Homo sapiens: one gene and its partners. The protein of the gene in region 2 interacts with the protein of the main gene of each other region in a biochemical or structural test. Each region holds a gene or a part of one and is shown on either strand. Other genes may lie near its edges.

Region 1 (3,748 bases), on a different chromosome or scaffold from region 2:
CTAAGTCTAGGGAGGATGGAGGAGTGGATATCTGCCTAAATCGCTTTTATCCCGTCATTTTCTTCCTTCCTTCTCTTTACTCTTCCTTTCCTTTTTCTCCCTTCCTTTCCTGTCTCCTTCCACATTATTGTCTCTCTCCTTTAGGAGCTTAGTTTCCGATGCCTGTGGATCCTTCCCTGATTTCTGGGACCAGAGGTGGTGCGAGGTTTTCTTGAGGGCACTGGCCACGCTGCAGATCAACGCCGGTGGCAAGAAGGGGCCGCAAGGGTTTCCGCAGACACCCACACATGCAGGCGTTCCCACAGAGGGTACCAGGGATTTCCCAGACCCCCACCAGCCCTCAGGAATAGCGTAGAGAGAGGAACGTCGCCTGGCTGAGAAAGGTGGATGGGCATACCCATGTACCTTTGTGTATTAAGTACCCACAACCTCCGAACTTAGCCGTCCCTGTCCCGGCCCGCCCAACTGCTGCCGCCGCATCTGCAGAAACCACTCGTGTTGAGGCCTCGGAGCAGCCGGGAGCACCACGCTGGAGCAAAAAAGCCGGAGGGCGCAGGGCTCCAGCCCGGCTGACCATCCCACCCAGCGCAGGGACCAACGGAAAACCCGCGCGGCGCCAGGACCAGGGGGCTGCCCGACGCCGCTCGCGGACTAGTTCCTCAGACTGTGGGACTCCCTAGTGCCGGCTTTGCCCAGGGCTTTCCAAGGCTGTCTCATGCCCTAGATCTGCCCCAGCAGCTCAGGCCTTGGACTGCGAACCCAGTATCCCGAGACACCGATTCCATCAGTCCCCATCCCGACCCCTCTCCAGCCGGGTTCATCCGCCTGCTGCCTCCCGTCCTCCACGTTTCCCCCACCAGCCACCAACAAGCGGCAACCACGCTGCCTTCTGCAAAAGAGGAAGAAGGAAAGAAGGGAGAGAGAAAGAAAGGGGGGGAAAGGAAGGGAGGTTTAGAGACTGGAATAGAATCCGCAGCCACATTCAGAAACTTACTCGAGCTTGAGAAAAACAATTTAAGAAAAGTAAAAAGGAAGTGTCCAGAGCAGGAAGGGAATTCACAAATGTAGCCTCCAGCGGGAACAGCTCCCTGGCTGCCGAGCTCCAGCGGGAGGGGAGTCGAGCGTTTTCTTTGCCACTTACCTAGTCCCCTGTCTACAAAGCTGGTGATCGTATTAGCCGACTTGGAAGACTGGAAAAAGCTGGCATTGATGCCCAGCTTCTCAGCGATGGAGTAAGTCCTGTAGATTGACAGCATGTACTCGTGGGGCACCACGCGCGGACCCCTGCCTGGCGGCTCCTGCGCCCGGGGCTGCTGAGCCCGGGGTTCGTCCTGAGGCCGCGGCTGTGGTTCCTGGCCCTCCCGGCCCGCGTCACTGTCGCGCGGCGCCCGCTGCATCTTGCCTTCCTTGCGGCTTCGCATGCCCTTGGTGGAACCCAGCTCGGCGGACGACGAGGAGGATGAGATGGAAGCCTGCTGGAAACCGGGCAAATCCCACAGAAAACTGATGAGGAAGACGGCCGAGAGCAGGACCCTGGGAGTATCCATGGCGGGCAAGTGGCTGCGTCTCCCCAGGAGGCGGTGGCGGCGGCGCAGGACGCGCGGGGCACGGAGCGGCTGGACAGCGGCCGGGGCCCGGCTCCTCGGGCGGACTCGGAGTGCGAGGAGCCGGGTCCCAGCCACACAAACCCCGGCCCCGCCACGCCCCCTCCCGCCCCTCGCCGGGAGGGGAGGAATGGGGAGGGAGGGCAGAGGAGGGGTGGGGAGGGTGGGAGGAGAGCCGGGTGGTGCGGGCCGGAGGTGTGGGGGAGAGGGGCCGCGGTGCGCCGGTGTGGCAGGAAGACGCAGCGCCCCCGCGGGACGCGCGCGGGGTTGCCGGGCGGTGCGCGCGGCGCGGGCCGCAAGCGCTGACCGGGGGAAGGCGGGCGCTGCCGGCCCGTGGCCGGGGAGCAAAGGCTGGCCCGCCGCGCCAGGGTCCCCCTCGAACTCCCGGAGGTGTGGTCCCTCCGCAGCGCGGCCCCGGCTCTCGGTCCTCGCCAGCCGCCTCCACTTTCCTGGGAGCGAGCGGCCCCGGAGGAGGGAAGCGGCGGCGGCGCCCCCAAGAGACAGCTTGGAGCAGGCGCCTCTGCTGCAGGCTGCGTGCTGCCTCGGGGCGGTGGTACCCTCCCTCCTCGGCCCCAACCGCCAGGCCTGCCGTTTGCGCCCCTCAGGGGCCAGCCCGGAGCCAGAGAAGCCTCGCCCTGGGCCAGGCGCAGGGCCCAGCTCGGAACAGCCCCATTTTCTCGGTTGGGTATCGCTCTCCACAAAGACAGGCGTCTATTCCCGACCCTCGAGGTCAGGCAAAGGCCACGAGTCTTTAGAGTTTGGATCGATGCTAAAAGCTGCTGCGCTCCCCTGCAGGCCCCAGCCTCTCCTCTCGCAGTCCCCAACCTCTTCTGACGCAGACTTTAGCTGCTCCACTTCTTCGTCTGCTCCCGGGATCCTCTCCCTCTCGCGGCCTGCCCCCCGCCTCCACTGCATCCCCATTTTCCCTCTCTTCTTTCCCTCCCGCCTGCAGGACTTCCTCCTTCCCCAAGTTCCTTCTGCATTCCAATCCCTCTTCCCCAGCCTGCTTTTCTTCTCACACTGCCCTCCCATCTCACACTGCCTTCCCACCCTCTCTCTTCCCGGCCTCCCCCCTCGCCTTCCAGTGGACCCCTCCCTTTGCAGCTCTACCCCAATCTGTTTCTCTTCAGCCCAGCCTCGCCCCATCACGAGTTTCCTTTATCTGTCCCCAGATTCCCCGTGCCTGTCTTCCCCGCCCACTGCCTCGCTCATTCCTGGGCCTGCACGCTGAAAGGCGATGCGGCGTAGCGCTGCTTCTGTCTGCCACAGTGCTCTGCCCTGGACTGCTATGGGCAGAAGAGTTTCCCTCAGTACTGATTGGGTGCTCAGGCACCAACCATAAAGTACCCTCCTTTAATCGTGCCAACAGCTTTGTGAGGTTGGCGTTGACTATTTTCACCTTCACGGATGGAAAAAAAAAAGACTCAATGGAAATAAGTGACTTTTCCAAGGCCACTCTGCCAAGAGGTTATGCAGCAAGGGACAGAACCCAGGCTCCCACCCCAAGCCCAAGATTCTTCCCACTACAGCATAGACAGTCATTCCTGGCCCAACTTCTCTATTTCAGTTCTGGCTTTTTTCTTCTCTTTATGGTTTCACTTGATCTCAGGTGGCTTCTTTCTCCGCCATGCTACTTTCTGTGTGTGTTCCCAGTCTCTCCAATCTCCTCCCTCTCACTTTCTAACCCCTTCTTCCTTTTGCTTTTTCATCACCTCTTCTGTCCTGCAGGGACCACTCACATGACAGCCTGCAGGGGGAGGGAGTTTTGCTGCGCTGCTCCCCTCATCCTTTAACTTCCTTAAGGTCTGGGATATGCCCTCCACCCTGGACACTGGCCTCCTCCAGGTAATGGCAAGCACCCACAGAGAACTTGTGTGTCAGTCATGGTTTGAAGCCCTTCGCCAATATTATTTTACTTAATCTTCACAGCAATCCTGAAATAAGTGCTGTATTATTCCTATTTTACAGATAGGGAAAGTGAGGCCCAGGGTCACACTACTCCAGAGTCTGGGCTCTTAATCACTGGGCTATTGAGCTTGGCTGCTCTCCCCTTGGTCTCCGTGGATGCCCCTTCTGGCCCTATCCCAATTCTACTTATGTCCCCTAGTTTGGGTTTCATGGTTGTCAAGTTCTGAGACCTTATA
Region 2 (3,748 bases):
TTGGTAGATTTCTGTTTCTCGAAACCAGCTGGCTTCTTCAGTGGTAAAGAATACTTTCACCGCCACTTTTTCGCCACGCCATTTGCCCATCCATACTTCTCCATATCGGCCTTTACCAACTTGCCGGACCATCTGAATCTGTTTGGCAATAGTTCGCTGAACCTTTATAGAAAAAAGTAAAAGGTTTGAGCTCTTGATGAAAGAAACCCATTAAGACTGGCAAAGGGGTAGTCCATCTCATCAAAAAGCATGGTGTACCCAACCAACTCCAGTTAAAAACTTATAATGTACTTTTTTTTTTTTGAGATGGAGTCTCGCTCTGTCACCCAGGATGGAGTGCAGTGGCGCGATCTCGGCTCACTGCAACCTTCACCTTTTAGATTCAAGTGATTCTCCTGCCTCAGCCTCCCAAGTAGCTGGGATTACAGACACCCGCCACCATGCCCAGCTAATTTTTTTGTATTTTTAGTAGAGATGGGGTTTAGCCACGTTGACCAGGCTGGTCTTGAACTCCTGACCTCAGGTGATCCACCCCACCCCCGGCCTCCCATAATGCTGGGATTACAGGCGTGAGCCACCATGCCCGGCCATAATGTACTTTAAAGTATGAAACAATGTACAATGTATTCTGAAATCATAAACAGGTTATTCAAGTGGCTGGCTGTTTGCAAAAATGGTCATAATAATTACCCTCCCAGTGCACACAGTCGTGGGTAGTCTTGGTCCACAGACTCAGGGCTTAGGCCACATGACTTGCTTTGGATAAAAGAACAACAGCGAACGTGATGCAAGCAAAGACCTGACAAATGTTTGTGGACTGGGGCTTGCCCCCTTCCTGCTGCTTTGGGAACCCTGTGACCAAAAAATAATGGCAGCATGAACTGTCGGCCAAGGGTGTGAACTACACCACCTAGCTCTAGCTAAGCAAGTCCAACAAATGAACTGCCCCACAGACTCACAGAATGAGAAATAATGTTTGTTGCTTCACATCACTAAGTTTTGGGGTGGTTTATTATGCAGCAAAGTCCAAATAACAGTTAAAGATCTTAAAAATCCCATCTATAAGACCCTGCCTGATCTGGCCTGGTCCCATTATTTGCTTTGACCACCCACCCACAAACCTCGTTTGACTTATCTCAACTTTTAGAATTCACTCAAGCTTATTCCTGTCGCTGGGTTTTTTTGAATATCCAGTTCCCTTTACTTAGAGTGCTATTTTCTCACTTAAACACCTTCATAGCACACAAAACCTCTCAGTTGCTGCGCTTAACACAATCATAACTTTATTCTTATTTACATATATATTTGCTTGAATTCCATCCCCTGCTCACAGAATATAAGTATTTATTTGGGACAATATCAGAAGTACTTTAATATTTGTTAAATAAAAGATGTACATGGATTGTTATCTTTCATTTTCAGAAGCATTAGTGATCATTCTAAATTAAAAAGAACATTATGCTCCAAGTTGGAAATGCTTCTAAAATGGACTAGATTTAGTGCAAAGCTAAAGTGACTTTATGTATCATTTATTATAGAATCCTTTTGTAAATTTTGTTCTGTTTTTTTGAGACAGAGTCTCGCTCCGTTGCTCAGGCTGGAGTGCGGCGGCCAATCTCAGCTCACTGCAACTTCTGCCTCCCCAGTTAAAACAATTTCCTGCCTCAGCCTCCCGAGCAGCTGGGATTACAGGCATCTGCCACCACGTCCAGCTAATTTTTGTATTTTTAGTAGAGACAGGGTTTCACCATGTTGGCCAGACTGGTCTCGAACACCTGACCTCAAGTGATCTGCCTGCCTCAGCCTGTAAGTTTTTAAGTCAAGATTATTGAGGTATAATTTATATAAAATGTACCCTTTTTGAGAAAAGTTCAACAAGCCTTGGACAAATCTATATCATGTAATCACCAATACCACAATTAAGATACAGAATATTTTAATAACGTAAAAAAATTCTCACTTTTTGGCCAGGCGTGGTGGCTCACGCCTGTAATCCCAACACTTTGGGAGGCCGAGGCGGGTGGATCACCTGAGGTCAGGAGTTCAAGACCAGCCTGGCCAACATGGTGAAACCCTGTCTCTACTTAAAAAAAAATACAAAAATTAGCTGGGCATGGTGGTGCATGCCTTAATCCCAGCTACTTGGGAGGCTGAGGCAGGAGAATCACTTTTGTGTAGCCTTTTGTGTCTGGCTTCTTTCATGTAGCATAAAGTACTTTTGAAATTCACCCACTGTTGCTGCTACATGTGTTAGAAGTTGTTCCTTTTTACTGATGAGTAATATTCCACTGTATGAATGTACCAGCATTTGTTTATTCATTTAGCAATTCATGAGCTTTGGGGTTGTTTCCAGTTTATGTCTATTATAAATAAAACTGCTATAAACATTCACATTCAGGCCTCTGGTGTGGACAAGTTTTCATATCTCTTGGGTAAATAATTAGCAGAAGGATTGCTTCATTGTACGGAAAGTATGCCCTTAACTTTCCAGGCAATTGTCAAACTATTTTTCAAAATAGCCATACCATTTTGCATTCCAACCAGCAATGTATGAGATTTCTAGTTGATCTACATCTTTGGCACCACTTAATATTATCAGTCTTAGCTATACTAGTGGATGTGCAGTAGTATCTTACTGTGTTTAATTTGTATATCCCTGCTGATGCTGAGCATCTTTTCATGTGCTTGTTTGCCATTCTTATATCTTCTTTGGGGAAGTGTCTGTTCAAATCTTTTGTCCATTTTTTAAAAAAATTGGGTTATCTTATTATTGAGTTGCAAAAGGTCTTTATATATTTTGCACAAAAACCCTGTATCAGATCTGTTTTGCCAATCTGTGACTTGTCTTCTCATTTTCTTGTCTTCTAAATAGCAGAAGTTTTAAATTTTGATAAAGCCTGATTTATCATTAAAAAAATGATTTGTGTTTTTTATGTACTGAAGAAGTCTGCCCAAGGTCAGAATAATTTTTTCAGACATTTTCTTTTAGAGGTTTTATACTTCAACTTTTACATTTAGGTCTATGCTACATTTCAAGTTAATTTGGTATAGAGTGAGGAGGTAAGGACTGAGATTAACTTCTTGGTAAATGGATTCCTGATATTTCCTGCACCATCTGTTAAATGGACTGCCTTTTTCCAATTGAATTACTTGGGCATCTTTTTGTTTTTTTTTTTTTAATCAATTAACCATATTAAGTGCATGTTCCTTTCTAAACTCCATAATCTGTTCCATTCATCAATACATCTATCCTTATGCCAGTACCAAATTGAGATCATTATTGAGTTTTACGGTAAGTCCAGAAATCAGGTAGTGATTCCTCTTTGTTCTTCTACTTCAAAATTGTTTTGGCTCTTCTAGTCCTTTGCATTTCCATATAAATGTTAGAATATACATCAATTGCTATAAAAGTTTGCTCTGATTTTCATTTGGATTCGAATGAAATTACACACCAATTTGAGGAAAACTGAAATCTTAATACTGAGTCCTCAGATTTATAAACATCTCCACTTATTTAGGGCTTTATTAATTTCTTTCAGCAATGTTTTATAATTTTCAGTGTGCAGGTCTTGCATAAATTGTTAGGCTTATTCTAAATATTTCATGGTTTTTGATGCTATTTTAAATACTGTTTTTATAATTACCTAATTGTTTGTTGCTAGAGCCTATAAATTCAATGGTATTTGTACAATGACTCTGTATTCTGCAACCTGATAAAGTCATTTACTGGCTGCAGTAGTTTTATTGT
Region 3 (3,748 bases), on a different chromosome or scaffold from region 2:
TGGCATGGTTGGTTGAGTTGAGGTGGTCAGCCAGTGGAAAGGGGCAGTCCCCATGGCAGTAGAAGGCCTGGTAGCCTGGTGGGGCCACAATCCAGTCATTCCAGCCCACATCGCTGAAGTCCACATAGAGCGAGTGGCGCCGGCAGTTCTTATTCTTCTTCCTGGCCCGCTGTGAGTGATGCTTAGGGCTACGCTTGGCCCTCCGGCGTCGGGTCAAGGCATGGCCCCGGCCATCATGGCCAAAGGTGACCAGGAGGGGCCGGAGCTGGGCCCAATTCCCACTCCCTTGAGGTAACGATCGGCTAATCCTGACATGCTGGCCCTGGTGGGTCCGAGTCTGATGGAGGTGAGTCACCTCAATGGCTAGCCCATAGTTTGGCTGCTTCTCCCGGGTCCAGCGAAGGACCGCAGGGCTCACATCAAAAGTTTCCCACCGTGTCACATTGTGGTGGACCAGTCTCGTGTCCAGTAGTCGTGTGATGAGGTGCCCAGGCACCACTTCTGCTGGGGGCTTCATAACCTCATAAATGTTTATACGGTGGAAGCCCCTTTCCCAATCAGGGCCCTGGTCCACCTGCTCCCGGAAGAGCCGAAGCTCTGCAGAGGAGATCACCTCGTTCTCAGGGATGCTGCTGAGGTTAAAGAGGAAACGAAAAGCAGAGTTTTCACTGGTCCCTGGGATGTTCTCCAGATGTTCTAGGCACAGTTAGGAAGGAAGGGGAAAAGAAAAAGCATATGAACTTTTTTCAAAGATGGAAGAGTCAAGAGATAGCTCAGGGTTGGGCAATGAATGGTGAATTCTGCTTATGCAGGGGAAACCTACTGGGGGAAAATAAGCATACCCCTTAATTTGAAGGAGCAGATAAGTGGGGCAGCTAACAAACCAGCAAAATGTAGCTAGCATTTCTCAAGCACCAAAGACAGAAACTATATCCAGCCTCCTTGATATGTCTAATAATTTCTATGTGTCAACTCCTCTATGGCACCACAATCAGACTCCTCTTTTAAACCCCCCACCTTGGCTTTGTGTCCACAGTTTTCTTTACAAGTGGTTGTAAAGAAAAAGAGGGGCCAACAGAGCACAGGCAGGAGGAAACATGCAGACAACCACCCTCTCCCTCTTCCACTATTGAGTATGTTACTAAACATTTCCCCAGCGATCTTGGAAACACAGAGCATGCCTTGTTGATCATGTTACAGAGGGGAAAATAAATTCCAACACAGTAATGATGCTGGTGGATTAATAACTCAGATTTACTTTGGAAAAGAAACATCCGCTAGGAAACATTCAGATCGGATTACAAGGCCCCTATTGAATAAACCCGACAAACACACAGCTGTAATATTAAATTCAGTAGGTGCTTTGAAAAAAACGGGCAGAAAACCTAGCAGAAAAGGCTTTGATATAGCAAAAACACACCGCTGGGGCTAGCCCACGTCTGAGTGCTGTCATTCCCCTTCCCCTGAACACCTCCCCCTCTGTCTCCAAAAAATAAGTTCGGCGGCAGCTCTGCAAATTCTTGGAGGTAAGCAGCTCTGTTCCTCAGCCTCCTGGACTGGGGCTTTGATGTAACCCGAACTCTTCTTCCCCAGGGCTTTCACTGCCCCTCTAGCCAGTCCCACCAGCCCTCCCCCACGCAGACTGGGGGAAGAGACTGACCTTCGTGGTGGAAGCTCCTCACGGTGTTGGCCCGGCTGGCCGGGCGCTCAGGATACTCAAGACCAGTGCTGTGGATCTGCTCTTCCTCCTCCTCCCCAGACTGAAGCCGGTAAAGATCCCGCATGTAGTCCGGAATGACGGCACTCTTGCTAGGCTGCGGGCGGCGGCGCAGCCCAAACATCTGCAGAAGTGTCGCCTCGAAGTCCCGCAGGAGCTCATGGCTCTGCCCTGAGCGGCGTCCTCCCGCGTGGCCCTGAATCTCGGCGACTTTTTTCTTCCCCGTCTCAGGTATCAAACTAGCATGGCTCGCGCCTCCTAGCAGGACTTGGCATAATAAAACGACCATCAGCATTCGGTTACCAGGAATCATGGTGTCTCTGGGGAGGGGGAGGGGAGTGGAAGGTTAAAGAATAAATAAACACCAATAAATAGGGAGAAATAGAGATGTGTCTGCATATGCATTTAGGGCTAGAAATGGAGGGGCAAGATGGAAAGCAGGTCAGAAAGATCAAGTTTGTGTCTTCTCCCTCACACCACCCGCCCACCCACCAGCTGCAGCCATGCACGGCCTGAAAGTAAGAATTGCCCTGTAATTACTTGGTCTAACTTGTTTACAGTCAAATAACCCCAAATCAGATAGCCTCCATCCTGTTAATCTTTTTTTGTCCTAACTGCTATCTGGGCCATGATCTCAGCGTGGCTTCTTGAAGGATAAACAGTTAACATTGAGGGGGTGAAAAGGGGTGGGGGAGGGAGAATTAAAATGGCATTGCTCTCCACTTTAGACCTTCAGCTTCTCTCCCTTTTCCTCCACCCTCAGAGCCCAACTTTCACAACTTCCAGTTGGTTCAGAGCCAGAGGGAGGGAAAGTGAGAGGCAGGGGCTGGGCGAAGACAGAGGGCGACAGGGTCCAGAAGCCGAGAAGGTGGTCTGGGAGCTAACCGGGTGGCTTGAGGGCTTATTTTATTGTGGCCGATGAGTTTGAAATATTCAGCCAAAAGTGCCTGATCGTGCCCGCTCATCCCCAGGGAAGGGGTGAGAGACGATTCCGGAGAGACCTCTGTGAGTTTTGACAAGAGAGTGGGAACGCGCCACGGAGACACTGGGGGCTCTCCCAGACAAGTTGGATAGGGGAAGGGAGTGGTTAGCCCTCAAGGTACAACCCCGGGCTTTCATCTCTTTAGCTCCCTCGCGCTCCCCTTTCTTGCAACGCTGAGAGGGCGAGTGCGCGCTAGCAGCACTTTAAAAGGAACCCGTACGCTTCCAGCGCCCCGGCTGCCGGGCCAAGAAGGGAGCGACAGTGCTGCCAGGGAGCAGAGTGTGGATATTGTAAAGGAGGTCCGACGGAAGGGACAGCCGGCGAGCAGGGGTGGTGAGGGCAGAGTGAATTCCGGGGAGGGGGAAGGAAGAGGTGTCTACTCACTGACAGAAAACAAGGCATATAATAACAGTCCATGATTCTTGACAGCCAATCTTGAACAAACTTGCTGGAAAGGCTCAGGGAAGCTGCAGCAGTGCGTTGCTCGGGATGGCACTACGGAATGGCTCCTAAAAGGAATATTTGAATATAATGAGACTCCACCGCAGACAGGCTCTGTTTTTCTTCCAGCCCCTCGGAGTCACGTGAGCGCCGAGGCCCCTCCCGCGGCAGGCGGCGAAAGGGCTTGCGCGCCCTCCCCTCCTCCACAGCCCCCCGCCCCTCGCGGGCCCGCCCCTCCAGGCGAGGCCAACCTCCGCGCCCGCCGCCCGAGCCTCAGCGGTCCGGGAGGAGCTCCCGGCGGCGCTCGGCAGAGCCCTCGGCCGGTGCCCCGCGGCCGCCGCGCTCCCAGGGCTACTGGCGCAGCGCACGGAGAACCCGGTTCTCGGCGCGGTGCGTCGTGCTGGGCCCCCGCGCCGGGCCACCTGAAGCCAGAGGATTTGGGGCGCACTGAAGGGACTGCGTCTCCCAGCTCGAACCCGGCTTAAGTGGGGCCGGGAGCGAGGTCGGGAAAGTCTCACCCGCCCAAAGCCTCACCACCGAGAGGCACTTAAAAAGGAAAGCGCAGAGGGACCCTGCCCACGCGCGTGTACACACACACCCCCCCACAC

What was found.
Region 1: the proteins of BMPR1A (region 2) and GDF6 form a complex in vitro, tested with the Homo sapiens proteins (one study listed by BioGRID).
Region 3: the proteins of BMPR1A (region 2) and BMP4 form a complex in vitro, tested with the Homo sapiens proteins (3 studies listed by BioGRID and IntAct, with this or other methods).

Annotation. Positions count from the first base shown.
Region 1 is NC_000008.11:96,159,146-96,162,893, forward strand, and holds the start of GDF6 (growth/differentiation factor 6 preproprotein), read right to left. Parts: upstream 1,662-3,748; 5' UTR 1,548-1,661; coding exon 1,142-1,547; intron 1-1,141. UniProt on the Homo sapiens protein: Growth factor that controls proliferation and cellular differentiation in the retina and bone formation. Plays a key role in regulating apoptosis during retinal development.
Region 2 is NC_000010.11:86,913,548-86,917,295, reverse strand, and holds part of BMPR1A (bone morphogenetic protein receptor type-1A isoform 3 precursor), read right to left. Parts: intron 163-3,748; coding exon 1-162. UniProt on the Homo sapiens protein: On ligand binding, forms a receptor complex consisting of two type II and two type I transmembrane serine/threonine kinases.
Region 3 is NC_000014.9:53,950,193-53,953,940, forward strand, and holds part of BMP4 (bone morphogenetic protein 4 isoform a preproprotein), read right to left. Parts: intron 3,209-3,748; coding exon of another isoform or gene 3,084-3,208; intron 2,038-3,083; 5' UTR 2,031-2,037; coding exon 1,661-2,030; intron 697-1,660; coding exon 1-696.